Linked DNA regions of Homo sapiens: region 2 is linked to region 1. Evidence: fine-mapped expression QTL. Tissue or cell type: uterus. Region 1 holds a variant in brackets; the other region holds the start of a gene. All regions are shown on one strand. Distances are from middle to middle.

What was found. PIP is the estimated chance that this variant, and not a neighbour inherited with it, causes the effect.
Region 2: SAMD9L starts here. The variant in region 1 is fine-mapped to the expression of SAMD9L in uterus (GTEx, PIP 0.91).

Annotation. Positions count from the first base shown.
Region 1 is chr7:93,383,428-93,391,539 of GRCh38, reverse strand. No RefSeq gene overlaps it. Among named protein-coding and RNA genes, the nearest start is that of MIR653, 95 kb to the left of the region's middle. The variant A/C (reference allele first, on the strand shown) is at 3,491.
Region 2 is chr7:93,143,308-93,151,419 of GRCh38, reverse strand. SAMD9L (sterile alpha motif domain containing 9 like) reads left to right here and starts at 3,035. Exons shown (of 5, transcript NM_152703.5): 1 at 3,035-3,226; 2 at 4,274-4,537; 3 at 5,380-6,035; 4 at 6,587-6,688. RefSeq lists an enhancer at 3,736-3,835.

The sequences.
Region 1 (8,112 bases):
GTGAGTCCATTCTAAGCTCAAACTTTTTAAAGTCTTGAAGTGTTAAAATATGTAAATATATAAGAAAATGTAAACAACTCTGATTTTAAAGTATCATATGGAGAAAAGCATTCTAATAATAAAAACTATGTAATTTTTTGGAGATATAATATTAGCCCTTTTTTTGACAATGCTGTTCAATTAGACCAGCCTCTCTGGCTTAGATCATGGATCTTTAAAATGTCTTATGAGTTAAAAGAGAAGCTTGAGATTTGGGGGTGAACAGGAGAGAGAGGAAAATTAGCAGAGAATAAGAGAAATTTATGAATCAAACCATCATACCCAGGTGACACATGTGACAAACAAATTGTGGCATGTGAGATTACACCTAAAATATTTATAGAAGAGAAAATAAAATGGAGTTATCCCACAGATGGCCTGAGAGAACTTCAGATAGTTTAGAAAACAGCCAGTCATCTTGCAGCAGAGTTTTTAAGTTACTTTTTCTGCTAGTGTTAAAGACAGCATGGAAGCATAGGATGCCTTGTCTGATGGTTATAACTATCTTTTCCCACCAGGTGAGTCATGGTTTTTTTTCCTAGTTTTTAAAACTTGACTTGCTTGAATGCACACACACACACACACACACACACACACACCTCCTTAAAATAAATGTCTCTGTCTATGTACACATCTTGCTGGTTTTGTACAAAACCCTGACTAATACAGTGAGCATATGGCAAATGGCAGTTGACCATAACCCAACCACCTAACCTTCCACGTCGGGCTCAACTGTCAGCTCTACCGAGTCATAAGAAGGAAATCTTGTCTTGCTTCCTAGTTTCTTCTTTGTTTCTAATTCCTTAGCCAGGATTGAGTGGGCTCTTGCTTTCTTATTTTCTGGGCCCCCGTGTAATTTCTCCAGTCCCCTTAGGCAGAGAAACAGCACACTTTTGTTTTGACTTTTTAATTAAATTTTCTATTTTGAGATAATTGTAGATTAGCACGAAGTTGTAAGAAATAATACAGAGGGATCATCTTTAGCCTTTACCCAGTTTTCCCCAATGGCAACATCTTGCAAAACTATAGTACCACAGGCATGAGATTGACATTGATATAGTCAAGATACAGGATGTCTTCATCACCACAAGGATCCCTCCTATTGCTCTTTTACAGACATGCTCACTTCCCTCTCACTCTCACCTCCTCCTTACCTCCTGGCAATCACTAATTTGTTTTCATGTCTATAATTTTGTCCTGTCAAAAATCCTATATAAATGGAATTAAACTGATTATAACCTTAGAATTGGCTTTTTCACTCAGCATAAGTATCTAGAAATTTATTCAGGTTGTTGAATGTATCTGAATAGTTTTCCTTCGTATGAATATACCACAGTTTTTCAACCATTCATTTGTTGAAGGACATCTAGATTGCTTCCAATTTTGGCTATCATGGATACAGCTGTTATGAATGTTCATGTGTGGGTTTTCATGTGAACTTAAGTTTTTATTTATCTGGAATAAATGCTTAGGAGTGAAATTACTGGATCATATGAAAATTACATTTTTAGTTTTTTAGAAACTACAAAACTGTTTTCTAGAGTGATTGTACCACTTTACATTCCTGCCAGCAATGAGTCATTCAGTTTCTCTATCTTTTCTGAATTTTGTGTTGTCACTATTTTTTATTTTAGCCATTCTGATAGTTATGTAATGATATTTCAGTGCAATTTTAATTTCCTTAATGGCTAATGGTTTTGACATCTTTTCATGTGCTTATTTGTATCTGTATATCCTTTCTGGTCAAATCTCTTCTGTGTTTTGCCCAATTTTTAATGGATTTTTTTTTTTACTATTGAGATTTGAGAAATCTTTATCTATTCTAGATACTAGTATCTTGCTAGATATGTGGTTTGCAATTTTTCTTTCAGCTTGAAGCTTGTTTTTTAATCACCTTAAGAGAGGTTTTTGCAGAAAAAAAAGTTTTTCATTTTGATCAAGTACAGTTTATCAGTTTTTTTTAATGGACCATGCTTTTGGTGTTAAATCTAAACACTCTTTGCTTAGCCCTAGATCTCAAAGATTGTCTCCTGTGTTTTTCTAACATTTTTATAGTTTTACATTTAAGTCTATGGTTCATTATGTGGTTTTTTAATATATAAAGTCTGATTTTTATATTTTATCTTGTATTGTGGGACCCTGCTGAACTCACTTTATTAGTTCTAAAAGTATTTTTATATATTCCTTGGAACTTTCATGCAGATATTCATGTTACCTGCAAATAGGGGCAGTTGGACTTCCTCCTTTCCTATCTATAGGACTTTTATTTCTACTCCTTTTATTTGTTCTTTCTTTTCTTGCTAGAACTTCCAGTGCTATACTGAATAAGAAGAGAGTGGACATCTTAGCCTTGTTGCTGATTTTAGAATGAAAGCATTCAGTATAATGTTAGCTGTAGGTTGTTTGAAGATACTCTTTATGAAGCTGAGAAAGTTCTCCTCTATTACAGTTTTTCTGGGTTTTTCTCATGAATGTGTGCTGAATTTTGTTAAATAATTTTTCTGTATTTCTTGACACAAACGTGATTTCCTTCTTTAATCTGTTAAGATGGTGGTTACTTTGATTTTCAACTAGTGAGCCAACCTTGCTTTCCTGGAATAAACTCCCTGGTCATGGTATATAATTCTCATTGTATATGGCCAAAATCCATCGGCTAATATTTTCCTAATAATGTTTGCATCAATATTTATGAGGAATATTGGTCAGTAGTTTTCTCTCTTTTTTAATGTTTTTGTCTGATTTTGGTATCAGGGTAATACCAGCTTCATAAAATGAATTAGGAAGCATTCTCTTTGCTTCCCTTCTCTGGGAGAGATTACATAGATTTGGTTTTATTTTTTCTTTTGGATTTTTTTTTTTTTTTTTTTGAAATCTCACTCTGTTGCCCAGGCTGGAGTTCAATGGTGCGATCTCGGCTCACTGCAACATCTGCCTCCTAGCGAGTCTATTGCCTCAGTCTCCTGAGTAGCTGGGATTATGGGTGCCTGCCACCACACCCAGCTAATTTTTGTATTTTTAGTAGAGATGGGGTTTCACCATGATGGCCAGGCTAGTCGTGAACTCCTGGCCTCAAGTGATCCACCAGCCTTGGCCCTCCAAAATGCTGGGATTACAGGTGTGAGCCACTGCTCTCAGCCCCTCTGGAAAATTTTAACTTACAAATTTAAATTCTTTAATAACCATAGAATTACTCAAATTATCTATTTCATGCTGGGTGAGATGTGATTGTTTCTGTTTTTTGAGGAATTGTTCATTTTATCTAAGCTTTCAAATGTATGTGTGTAGAGTCATCTGTAGTATACCCTCCTAACCCTTTTGTTGTCTTTAGAGTCTATAGTGACATCCTCTGTTTCATTCATGATATTGGTAATTTGTGTCTGCTGTCTTTACTCCTTGTAATGCTGCTGAGAAGAGGTAGAAATTTAGGTTTCCCTGCTGGTTGCTGCTCCTC[A/C]TCAGGAGGAAAGTACAGAGAGTAGGGTAAGGTGGGAGTGAGCAGGTGTGATGATGGGGAGTGAATCTTGGCACTGCCCTGTGGGGATAAAAGTTCTGCCTCTTTATTCAGCTCTCCCTGACAACACCCTGATGAGAGTCGGGGTAGGTTGGGATGCCTCCTTATAGCTTGGTGGTGGTGGAAGCATAGGCTCCTCATTTAGCCTTTGCTGGCCTGGATGAGGGTGGGTCCACCATTTTATTTGGGGTGTTTGAGCAGTGGGGTAATTTTTTCTAAAAGATTTTCTTTTTGCTAGGCTTCCGTATTAGTCAGTACGGACTATACGTACATATATATATGTACACACACACACATATATATGTATATATATGTATAAATGTTTATTTTATATATATTCATGTTTATTAAGTATTCATTAAGTACGAACTTACACAATCACAAGGTCCCACAATATGCTGTCTGCAAGCTGAGGAGCAAGGAGAGCCAGTCCGAGTCCCAAAACTGAAGAACTTGGAGTCTGATGTTCGAGGGCAGGAAGCATCCAGCATGGGAGAAACATGTAGATTGGGAGGCTAGGACCGTATCATCACTTCACGTTTTTCTGCCAGCTTTGTATTTACTGGCGGCTGATTAGATGGTGCCCACCTGATTAAGGGTGGATCTGCCTTCCCCAGCCCACTGACTCAAATGTTAATCTCCTTTGGCAACGCCCTAACAGACACCCAGGATCAATATTGCATCCTTCAATCCAATCAAGTTGACACTCAGTGTTAACCATCACAGCTTCTTTCCTGGTCCTTTGGTTAGAGAGAGTAGGCTTTTCCTGGGGCTCATTCTGATCTGTGCCCATTGTTTTTTCTGTGTTGCTGGCTTCTTCAACTTCTACTCTGGGATATATGAAGCAAAAAGAAAACTCAAGGGATTTACCACCGTTTTTTTGCCAGGAGGTCCTGAGGTCTCTAGCTAGTCTGTCTTCTTCCCCGCATCTTTCAGAGTTCTTATCTATCTATCATCTGTCCGTGTATCATCTCCAGGGTTTTATTCCAGGGAGGAATAGAGAAATTTACATATACTTCATTTTCCTGGGAGTGCAGGTTCTCAGCATGTTTTTTTAAAAAAATAAAATAATAATAAAATTTTTTAAAAAGCCAGGATTTCTTACAGTATCTTTGTTATAGGCAAGGCTACCACTGCTTGCTTTTCAATGTATGTGGGCTGAATAGGTGTCAGTTTCCTATCTTCTCAGCCAGCTTGGAGTCAACTCTGTATATTTGATTTGTATTTGCAGTTAAACATGATTCTGACCTTCACATTCCTTTTGACAGCTCAGTGGCTATTTTTTGGTGCCTTTTCAATTACAAACAAAAACTGAAGCCCAAGCTTTGCCTTTTGGCTTTTGCTCACTGGATTGGCTTCCTTCTAATTTGAGGAGATCTAAACTATCAAGTGTTTTCTGCTCCCTCCCTGGGAAATGGAAGATTTAACATGAGGAGAAATTATGAGTGAGTTGGTCCACTTCTCCCTCTTCTTCTCTTGAGGGCTGCTCTATTCCTCATCCACCTGTAGTCACAACTCTGCCAAGAATCTAGTGTCTGTTGAACCCCATGGCTGTACCCCCACTGGGATCTGCCCTTCATAGAATTCTATGGGATTTTGGCTCTTCTTGCTCCCTGCTGCCAAATATCTCTACTTAGAATCCCATTTCTTCATCTAGCCCATTGCTGAGAAATAGATGAAGTATATGTGTAAATATATGGATGGCTGTTTATTCCTGTGTTAACCTTTCTAGTTAAAGAATTTTCATCTGACAATGGTCTTCCTCAGGCAGAGACTTAATATAAAATGACTTACAAGGAGGCATGTTAGCAGGGATTATGTTTATAAGGAAGGGTCTCCAGGGCCCTTTCAATCATAGCATTTGGCATCTTTATATTTTATTCAAGCATAGTTGTTAAAGAGACAAGGGCTTCATTCATCCTTCAAGACTCACCTGAGGCTTAGCCTTTTTGAAAGTTTTCTCTGACTTCCTCCATTCTGGTATAGATCGCCCTCCATCCTCTGTGTTTCCACATCACCTGGTAAGTCATTCCATCATTGCTGTGATCATTCAATATTTGTTAGTTTACATGTCTACATCCCTTACTAAACTTTAAGAGAGGGCCTATGTTGGTCAACTTTGTAAATGCAATTATCTGTCACAGTAATTGTACATGGAGATACTCAATAGATACTTGGTACACAAATACATAAATGAATACATGAATGATGGATTGATCTAGGTTATGAAATAAAAAGGCCTTTTACAGGTCTTTTACCTTTCTTTCTTTTGGCTTTGGGTGAATAGTGATTTTTGCCTTTAAGCTTACAAGAAATTATTATCACTTGGAAGAAGCAGAAAAACTATAACTCAGAGAGCAGAAATCTTGCATGAAAGGTTAAATGAGTGTAACTTGTCATATAATTGAAATTTAAATATAATATACTAGTTTTATAGGGGAGAACCTTCCATAAACCTTTCATGGGAATTAAACATGAAGCTTACTAAGAGGAGCACTTAAACTGTCACTTTAGCTTATTAGGAAAATACTTGCTCACTTTATCCAAAAGCAGAATAATCATTGTTGCGAAAGTCTGAAATTGACTATGGCTTCAGATCACTAAAATATGCTGGATTTTACTTTTAAAGATTATACAATCTTGTAAAGTTATATATTTTGAGTACAACAAGTAAGTTTTTAAAGGAAATTTAAATATGAACATGATATAAGGAATATTCTTCCTTCTCCAAGTGTGTCTGCCCTAATCTTTTGGACATTTTGTTGGTATGAAAATGGTGAACATAATTATTCTAATGGTTTATCATTACAAGTTTATTGAATAATGTGGAAAATTATACATACTAACTTATTTGCTCAAAATTAGAGGCTATTAGAGAAGTGTGAATCTACAGTCTGCTTCAAAGAAGCCGTGATTTGTTTATGAACTGTTCATAGTTATGAACTATTTGATTACAGGTTTCTTGATTCATGGTCATAATTTGCTGGTTGTTATCTCCCACAGAGAGGAACAGAGTTTTAGAGAAAGAAAGTTTAATATATATTTAGTCATTAATCTCCCAATAAGAACTGGGTTTTGGTAAGACTATAAATTTCAGCAAGAAAAAGATTAAAATGACAATCTTTAAGTTTCTTGACAAACTTGGAGCATATTGTTCGTTTGTTCATGCTTTTATTTATACTTGAAACATATTATAAATCCAACCCAACATTTTCTCCACCTACAATATTATTTCTTCACATCTTTTCCTTTTCACCAAGCTCCTCTCTTAGTTAATGCCATAAACATCCTTCTAGTCTCCTGGCTGGAAATCTTGAAGCCATTTCCAACTCCTCATTTTCCTTAATCTTCCACAACTTATGAAATACTAATTCTAGTTGGTTCTGCCCACAAAGTTCCTGTCATACTTGCTATTTCCTTTTCATTGACATTACCGTTGGCTGATTCCAAGTTCTTAGTATCTCTTGCTTGAATTAATAAAATATTCTCTAACTTGAGTACAGGTTTCTGATATTTACCAATTTTCATCCATTGTGCCATTGTCCTTCTTTAATGCTGTGAAATTATTTGCATTGCATTTGAGTCTCTTGTATTGATCCTTCAATACAACCATAGAAGCCCACGGTTTCCCAAGCATGCCATTTTAAAACCTCTGTTTGGTTTATGCTAGAAATGGCAAAATAGACCTTAACACTTAGGCTCAAATCAGAAGCAACTTTTGACAGTTTCCGTGCAAATCCTACCCTTCTGAACTATGTGGCAGGAAAGAGCATATGGTAAAAGAGAAAGAAGAATGTACTAGAAACATGTTATACTCATTTTCCCTTCATCAGCCTCCCCATACTTCCAATATCATTATTCTTTTTTCTAATACCCTCTAAATGCCCCTGCATGTCCTATGTCCTGACCTGGGGCAGGGCTGATTGGGAGGGTCTAGTTGGTTGCTGAAGAAAAGGAGAAAAGCTAAACTTCAATACACATGCCACTTTTGAGTGAACATAGGGTCTGAAGCATTCCTTGAGGAACAGTAGAATCATGGGCTTGGTGTTGACACAACCCAATCATTCATTTACTTAATCCAACTTTATTGCTCACCAGTTTCCCAAACTTAGGGACAATGTGTATAATGCCATTTGCACCTTGGTTCTCTCCTATGTGAAAAGGTGATGATAGATTTAAAACCACCCACCATTTTCTGCTGATGGTACATTCCTTATCGTATCAAAAAATAGAGCAGAAGAAGCACAGATGTGGAGAGAAGCTGTGCAAGTGTGATGTGGACATGCTTTTGAAGTACATTCCTCATGCTCTCTTCTCCCCGAACTTTGTTTCCGGCTGTGTGATGTAGAAGTAAGGGAAAGGTGGGAAAGTGGGTCAGGGATTTTCCCACTGCTTTAATGCAGCTACTACTCATGTGCTCTGTAACGGCAAATGTAAGGAGGAGAGAGACAGCTCTCAGTTGCTCCACAGGCTGCTGTTTCATGCATTCTATACAGCATGGTTCATACTGGAGCCCTGCTGCGAGACAGGAGACAGACACAGTCCTCATTGAGAAGAGGTTGTGG
Region 2 (8,112 bases), 240 kb after region 1:
CTGCAGCCAAGAGCTGCACCTTGTGGGAGGTCCTTCTTACTCCTTCTGCTTCCTCTGCTTTGTCCCTGTTATTGAAAACTAAAAATACCATATCCAAAAGCTGTTCCATATGGGAGTTTGGGGACCCATAGCTGCTTTTTCTAGTTTCCTATGGATATCAAGGGCAGACTGGGTTATAAAATGTACTCTCAAAAGGGTTTGTCCTTCCCTTGAAGCAGGATCAGTGTTAGTATATTTCCTAATTGCCTCAACTAAATGCCCTTGAAACAAAGCTGGATTCTCATCTTTGTCCTGAGAAACTTCCTTAATTTTTCATAGTTAACAGGCTTTTTCATACATTTCTTCATCCCTTCCAACAAACAAGTGACCATATGATCGCTCCTCCCCAAGTTGTCACTGCCCCTTTGATAGTTCCACTCTGGATCTTGATCTGGAACTGCTCTACCTCCTGCCTGATATGTATTATGGTTTGGGTTGTTAGCCAATGCCTCATCTGCATGAGCCCTAGCTGTCCCCAAAATGCATTGTTTCTCTTCCACTGTACAACACAGAGACAACAAAACATGGAGATCCTGCCAAGTTAACTATAGGTCAGAATTAATTTCTCAAATTAATCTATGAATCTTCCTGGGTCTTCAGAGAAATCACCAAACTTCTCTTTACATAGAGTCAAATCAGACAAAAAAAAAAAAAGGGAACATGTACTCTCACAGTGCCTTCTTCCCCATTTGCCACCTCTCTAAGTGGACAAAGGTTTCCCTTTGGAGGTTGATAGGAGGCTCCACTAGGGGTAGTACTCACCAGGCTAAGTTCCTCAGGGAGTGGTGGGTATAGAGTGGGGCTAGATGGGTAAGGAGGATGGGACAAAGGGTTCTCCAAGGGGATAGAGGGAGAAAGGACAGACACATCTGAACCTTCAGAGCTGACAGAAGGAGGTTCTGCTCCACCCAAAACTGCCTGCTGAACCAAGGTTGCTTGCATTAAAGGATCATCTAGTATGTCTAGCTTTTTTTCCTCTTTTCCTCTCATCAAACATGATTCACATTATCCAAATAACATAAGTGAGCTGAGTCATGAATCTTAGATAAACCACAACATGGACTTTGACAAAAATGTTGAATAAGGCAAGGGAAATGAAGAGGATTTAGATGGGAATGACCAGAGCAAGCAGGTTCTGGGCAATAGAGACAGTGTGGATTGAACAAGCAAAGCCGGTTTGCCTGAATGCAAGAAAGGAAAGAAGTGTTTTTAGTGTGCAAAGTGAAACAAAACATCAGAGTCCCCTGATTTCCATCCTAGTGCTTCTCGATCACACCTAGTCGGCATAGCAGCAACAAAACATAATCTAATTTTATTGCTCATAGCTGTTGAATACCAAATCTCAATCAGCAATTTTAAAGACGGAGCCGTCAATGCTTTTTGTTCCCAATGTTTCAAGAGCAGACACATGGAAATCAGGAGGCACATAGGAAAAGAGTAAGTTAAAATCCCTAAGACCATTTAGATAAAGTCTCCCGAAAATGACAGTGAAACACAGACAGCAACCAAGAAATTGATTTATGCAGCAAGGAGGACAAGGCAGATTAATACAAAGTGCATAGCCTGCAGTGCCAAACCCTTTTTTAGCAGAGAGGGACTTTACTGAGAGGGCCCTCTAACCCCCTAAATCTTAGAAGGAACTCTAAACCTTTTAAGTTGGTCCTCTAATCCGAGGTCAGTCAAGCATCTTTGCCTTTTATTAACAGGGGTCTCTAATTCACCCTGTCTTCGGAGAGACTCTAATTCCCCTAAGTTGGGCCTCTAACCCAATCCCATTCTTTACCCGGGTACCCCACCACTTACCCAAAGTCATCCAATCAGTGCTATAGTCCATTTCCTTTGGGTTGGTGGGGAGGTTCTTCAGTATCGGTCCCTCATGGTTGCCAGAAATGTTACAGGACCAGGGTTCCAATCCAGACCCCTAGAGAGGGTTCTTGGAGCTCATGCAAGAAAGAATTCAGGGCGAGTCCACAGTGCAAAGTAAAAGCAAGTTTATTAAGAAAGTACAGTGGTAAAAGGACAGCTACTCCACAGACAGAGTAGGACGTTCCCGAAAGTAAGAGGAGGAACACATCCACCCTAGGTACAATGCTTGTATATATGGAGAGATGTGTTTTGCTACAAGGGTTTCTGATAAAGAATTAATTTTCTTAATTAGTGTATTTTGCAAGAATCAATATTATTTTCTTTAAAGCAAAATTAAGAATGCCTCTGTTCTCCAGATATTGGGATATCTGGACACTCCCAAGTCACGGTCTGCTTAGTAAATATTATTAATTTGCTCCCTTAATCATAAACATCTAGAGGCTAGGAATGCCTACCTTTCTGAGAAGGCAGCCCAGCAAGTCTCAGCCTCATTTTCGTAGCCCTCATTCAAAATGGAGTCACTCTGGTTCGAATGTCTCTGACATTATCAGGGTTGGTTTCTTCTGATGTCTCTCTCCTTGGCTTGTAGATGGCCATCTTTTCTTTGTGTCTTCACATGGTCTTCCCTCTGTATGTGTCTGTGTCCCAATCTCGTCTTCTTACAAGGACACAGTCAGATTCAATTACAGACACTCTAATGACCTCATTTTAACTTAATTATCTCCTGAAAGACCTTATCTCCAAATACAGTTACATTTGGAGGGAGTGAGGATTAGGACTTTAACATATGAATGTTTGGGGGACACAATTCAACCAGTAACAGGAACTTAGATTGCACTGACATATTAATTTTCTCCCTGGTATTTCCATTCTCTTTGTCCTGTAGGTAGTTTTTTGGGTCACTGGGTTTTTTTGTTTGTTTGTTTGTTGTTTCCTTATTCCTTAACTCTTATAACTTAAAAATCTGCCTGGTAAACAGTTTCTAAGCAGTGATTCAAATTTATTGATATTTTTGGTAATGTTATTGATTAAAAAACATTTCAGATCCTTCTAAACTCAAGAAAAAAGAATGTTCTAAAGCAAAACTGAAACTGTCTATACTTCAACTTCCTCCTGCTTCTCAACTGGCACTCTGACACACCCTCAGAAAGTCAGAGTACTGGGAGAACAGAAGACTTCACAATTTAATGCCTCAGTTTTTAAAAAAGGATCCTTACACTTCATGTCTCCTAGCCATCAGAAGAGGAATGAGACAGCAAAAGTTCAAATGGCCTGTTTCAAGTTTCTGATATAAAACGATGACATTTTCAGGAAAATCCTGGTAAGTAAACTGAATCATTAAACCTTTATTTGTTATGCTTTTGAGGCGACAGCTATTTTTTAAAACTTCAGCTGTACTTTTTATATAAATATATGTTTGTACATAAACGATTACTTATAAAAATACTAGAGTAATTAGAAAAATCAATGGATTAAATACATGTCAGTATATTTAACTGATAATAACTTTGTAAGTGCTCTTCTAAAAAGAAACATACCATTAAGTGTAATTAGGATAGTGGGAGGGTTTCTGATTGTGGCAGGCAGGCTTTGGAAAAGAGGATAGAGAAACGATGCAAACAGGGTCAGGAATTTAAGCACTGAAGATTCTAAAGGAACGTGTGATCTTGTGTAATTACACAAAATTCTGTCTTCATAACGTAAGATGTTATTAAAACTTTTACATTTTATCAAAGTTAATACTCTGCAGAGGCTAAATATTATTCTATTAAAGTATTTCATTCACATACATCTTATCCAGCAATCTGGTTGAAAACTAAGAAAAAAAATGCAAAGTGTTCTTCAGGAAAACGAAACTAACTTGCTTGTGTGGCTTCTGTCTGCCAGACTATGCAAGGAGGGTGTGGGTAGCTCTCCTGGGCTACAGCCAGATTCTGAAGTGTGTTTCCCCTACATCAGTTCTAAGAATCCTGCAGAGCAGAACACCTCCCTAGGGCATGGATATCAGCGGTGTTGCTGAGGGTCTCTCAAAGATGGGGTGGGCTTGTCCCTGAGAGTTTGCTGACTTGGAAATTCTTGCTGAGCATCAAAGAGAGAAAACTGAAGTGTTGAGGATGCCAACCTGCAACTCCTTTGTCAATAACCAACGTTGCTAAAGATAATATTTGTCTTCACAATTGTTTCAAAACAGGACACTGAGGGCCCCTAGAAAGCCAAGACTTAAGTCAAGGCAATCACAAAATTTGTCCACACTAATCATGGTCATTTTGATTGTTACTTAGTTCCAACAGCATACATCCAGATGCTCTTAAAATTGTACTGGCTAAAACGAAAGAAAAAATCTGGAGTCTGTTTTTTCCATCTTTAGCATTTCCAGAGAGAGACTGGCTGGTTAAATTTCTGAAAGAGGACACCAGCTAAAAGAAGGTATTGCATCTCACCCGAGCAGACTGTGTCTGTGGAAAGTGTAAGCCCCTTGCCAGAAGAGCAGCTTCCCAGCAAAGGCAGAGGGTGAAAACAGCAAAGGTCTTAAGACACTGGGGACCTAGAGTCAAAAGGGACCTCCTCCAGGGAAAACGCTGTGTGAGAAATGGCCTCATTCGGTGACTGTGAGTGACACAGCAGAAAGTTGGTAAGGTGTAGTCTGTAACTAGGGTATCTACAAAAACTGCAGGAGAAAATATATTCATTTGTTTTGCTTTCCTTTTGAAAAAAAAACTTCCTTTTCATTATTTGTGACCAGATGATAGAAGCTGGAGTTCATTCTGGCCTAACGGGTAGCACAGTAAAGAGATTTCCCCAGATTTCTACCTGGAGTTCCAGCCAAGCGAAATAATTTCCCTAGGAAAATGAGGAAGTCCTTTGACCCACAGACACTGGTAGCTCAAGGCCTTTCAAATATTCATTACTTTTAACTACTCTAAGAAAATGTGTTACTCATTTAACAGATTTTTGTTAAGAAGCTATTATGTGCTAGGCAATGCCAGATAATGAACAAAATGTAAAGAAATTTGTCCTTATGGAGTGCATAGAATAATGGGTTGGACAGAAAATAAATAGGTTAAAATATATAAAATATTTGCTGCTTGTAAGTCCTAAGTAGATAAAAAATGAAGCCAGAAGAGGGATAGGAAATGTTGGGAGGTGGGATAAAGTTTTCAGTAGGCTGGCCAAACAGTGCCTTGCTGAGAAGGTGACATTTGACAAAAGATCTCAACAAAGTGAAAGAGTGAGCCCTGCTGGTATCCAGGGACATTCCAGGAAGGGAAAACAAGTGTAGTGGCTGGAAACAGGGGCAGGTGCTTCCTTCAGGAAGCAACGAGGAGGTCAGGGGACTGGGCCAGATTTAGAGGGAAAAATAAAAGACCTAATATCAGAGGATTAGCAGGGTACCAGATTGTGTGAGGCCTTGTCAGATGGAAAGCCACAGACAGGGTTGGACACAACATTGATATGATGTTTACATTTTAACAGGGTCATTCCGGCTGCTTTTTTGAGAAGTCCCTGAAGAGATCAATAACAGCAAGAGGGAACCTGGCAAGGAAGCTATTCCTATAATCCAGGAAAGAGATGAGGAAGGCTTGGACCAGGTGGTAGTGGTGTCAGGTAGTCAAATGCTGGGTATATTTTGAAGATACACCCCATAGGATTTGCTCCACATTGAATGTGGAATGCTGGAAGAGAGATAAAGTGTACCTGTCACATACTTTTTGAGTTTTATTTATTTTCTTAGAAGTAAGTACACAAAGAGATGCTACCTAGGAGAAGGGTATTCTTTTCACTATTCTTTCAAATTTTCTGTATGTTCAAACATTTTCATAGTAGAAAGTTGGGGGGAAAATCTGTTTCATAAACATTTCCTCAGCAGCAGTCCAGTCTATTGCATTTTAATTGGTTGTGATATCATTGTTTTATGCAATACGTTCTCAACAAGTATATCCTCCGGCAAACTGAACAAGGACCAAGTCTGTTCTGCCTACAGCTCTGCTTCCTCATAGCTGCTTTCCAGAACGTGACTCTTGCAAATTATCAAGAAAGGGGAACTAATCTAAGGGATCCAGATCAAACAGCCTCATGAAGACTTATTTTATGTTTCTAATATAAAGATAGAAGTTTTCAGAAAAGCCCTGGTAAGTTTCTAATCATTAAAGTCTTGTTTAATCAACTCTCTTTAAAAGCTATCTTTAAAAACTAATTATAAAAAGTAAAACAGAACTTTGAAAATGAACATACTTGCAAGTGTGCATAAGCTATTTCTTATGAAACCATTTTAAAAGGAATGAGAAATATCACTATTTTTATATGAGAATCAATAGATGTAACTTGTGCTGATTGCAGAATTTTTAAACAAGAAACTTTCCAGCAAGCATGGTGACGGTGCAGCATATTTCTAGAGGTGGAAAGCTCTGGGGTGAGGCTAAAAAACCTGGGTAAAACATAGACCAGGAGATCAGGAATCCAAGCATACAAAACCATGTAGAAAATTGTAGCCATGTGCAGCTATGCCATACTCTGTCCTATAAGTTACATTTAATTAAAGAATAAAATCCTCCAAGGTTTAGCCATCATTTTATGTAAGACTTTTATGCACATCTAGCTTGTATAGAGACTATGGGAGGAAATACATAATTTGAACTTGCACTTCAAGAAAATAAAACTAACTTTTGCTTTGCGATTTCAGCTACACAGAGGATCAGAGCAGGGGTGGGCCTGCTGGGCTGCAGCTGGGATTCTGAGCATCCTTTCCCGGAGGCACGGAAAGTGAGTGAGTGAGCCCAGTGAGGTGAGTGAGCCCAGTGAGGCCCAGCCTCCTAGACATGATGGTGAGCACCAGAGCTTGCCAAGGGCAGGCCAGTTTGATCCTTCCTGCTTAGTCCCTAAAGAGAGAAAAATAATAGTCCTTAGGCAGTAGATCCTAAAATTTATTATCTGTAGGGGATCCATTCCAGGACCTGCGCAGATACCAAAACCTGTACATGCTCAAATCCCTAATGTGAAATGGCAAGGTATTTGCATATAACCTATACACATCCTCCCGTGTACTTTGAGTCATCTCTAGATTAGTTATAATGCCTAATACAATGTAATATTATATAGTTGTTATACCGTATTTATTGTTTAGGGAATAGTGACAATAAAAACAAGTCTTTACATTTTCAGTACAGATGCAATTTTTTTTTCAAATATTTTCAATCTGTGGTTGATTGAACCCACAGATGTGGTACCCACTGATAGGGAGGGCCCAGTGTACAAATAAAGAGAACTCTGTGTTTCAAAATTATCCCAGAACAGAATAGAGTTAAGGTGAAGGTCTTCTGCCCAGCTCCAACCAGAGCAGCTACACCTTTATCCATGTTAGATACAGTGGTTTCAGGTGCATTTATTTGAAGAAGCAGAACAAAAACAAGCAATAGCTAAGACAACACTAGTTCTGGTCCAATTTTCCTATATTATAAGTGGGAAAACAGGCTCACTGAGAGGAGACATAATTTAATCGTGACATCATTTTTCTGATCACAACTCCTCCACCTTTATACACACTGTGTAGCTTCTTGCTAAACATGAAAGCCCTCATGTTTAAAACTATGCCTGCAGTCTAGGGTGTAAGGTTTAAGTCACAGAAAGAGCCAAAGGGTTATGTCAAAGCATTATTAAAGACTTTTGCCCAAATCACTGTCACCTGAATTAAATAACAGTTCCAACTACCTATGGATTATAGATCATATAAGATGCTTATAATTGACAGAGGGCAAAATTCACATGAAAGTAATATTGAATACATAATAGCTTCAAGTTGTTAAATATATTCTCAGCTACCAATGGGAAATGGTGGAATTCTGGCTGAGAAATATTTTTATGTTATATGTTATCATACTAACACATGATGTAGTAACAGAAGAAAAGTGAAGAAGCAGGTCGGTAGGTAGATGTGGTTTCAGGAGTTTGGAGAAGCTCTCTTTGGATTCCTTCAATTCTGCTGGTTTAAACAGGAAGCAAGGTGACCGTGGTGAGGAGGTGTTGTAGGTTTGATGAGAGAGGAGAAACAATGAAATGATCATTTAGGAGAATAAAAGAGTGATTAAAGCAGAGAAATAGAGCATGGTAGCTGAGAGCATTAAGGTGGGACCAGTTATGGTATGGAGGGCCACTGTCCAGCCATGTTCCAGTCAGGGTGTGAAGGGCCATTGTCCAGTATACTCCAGTCAG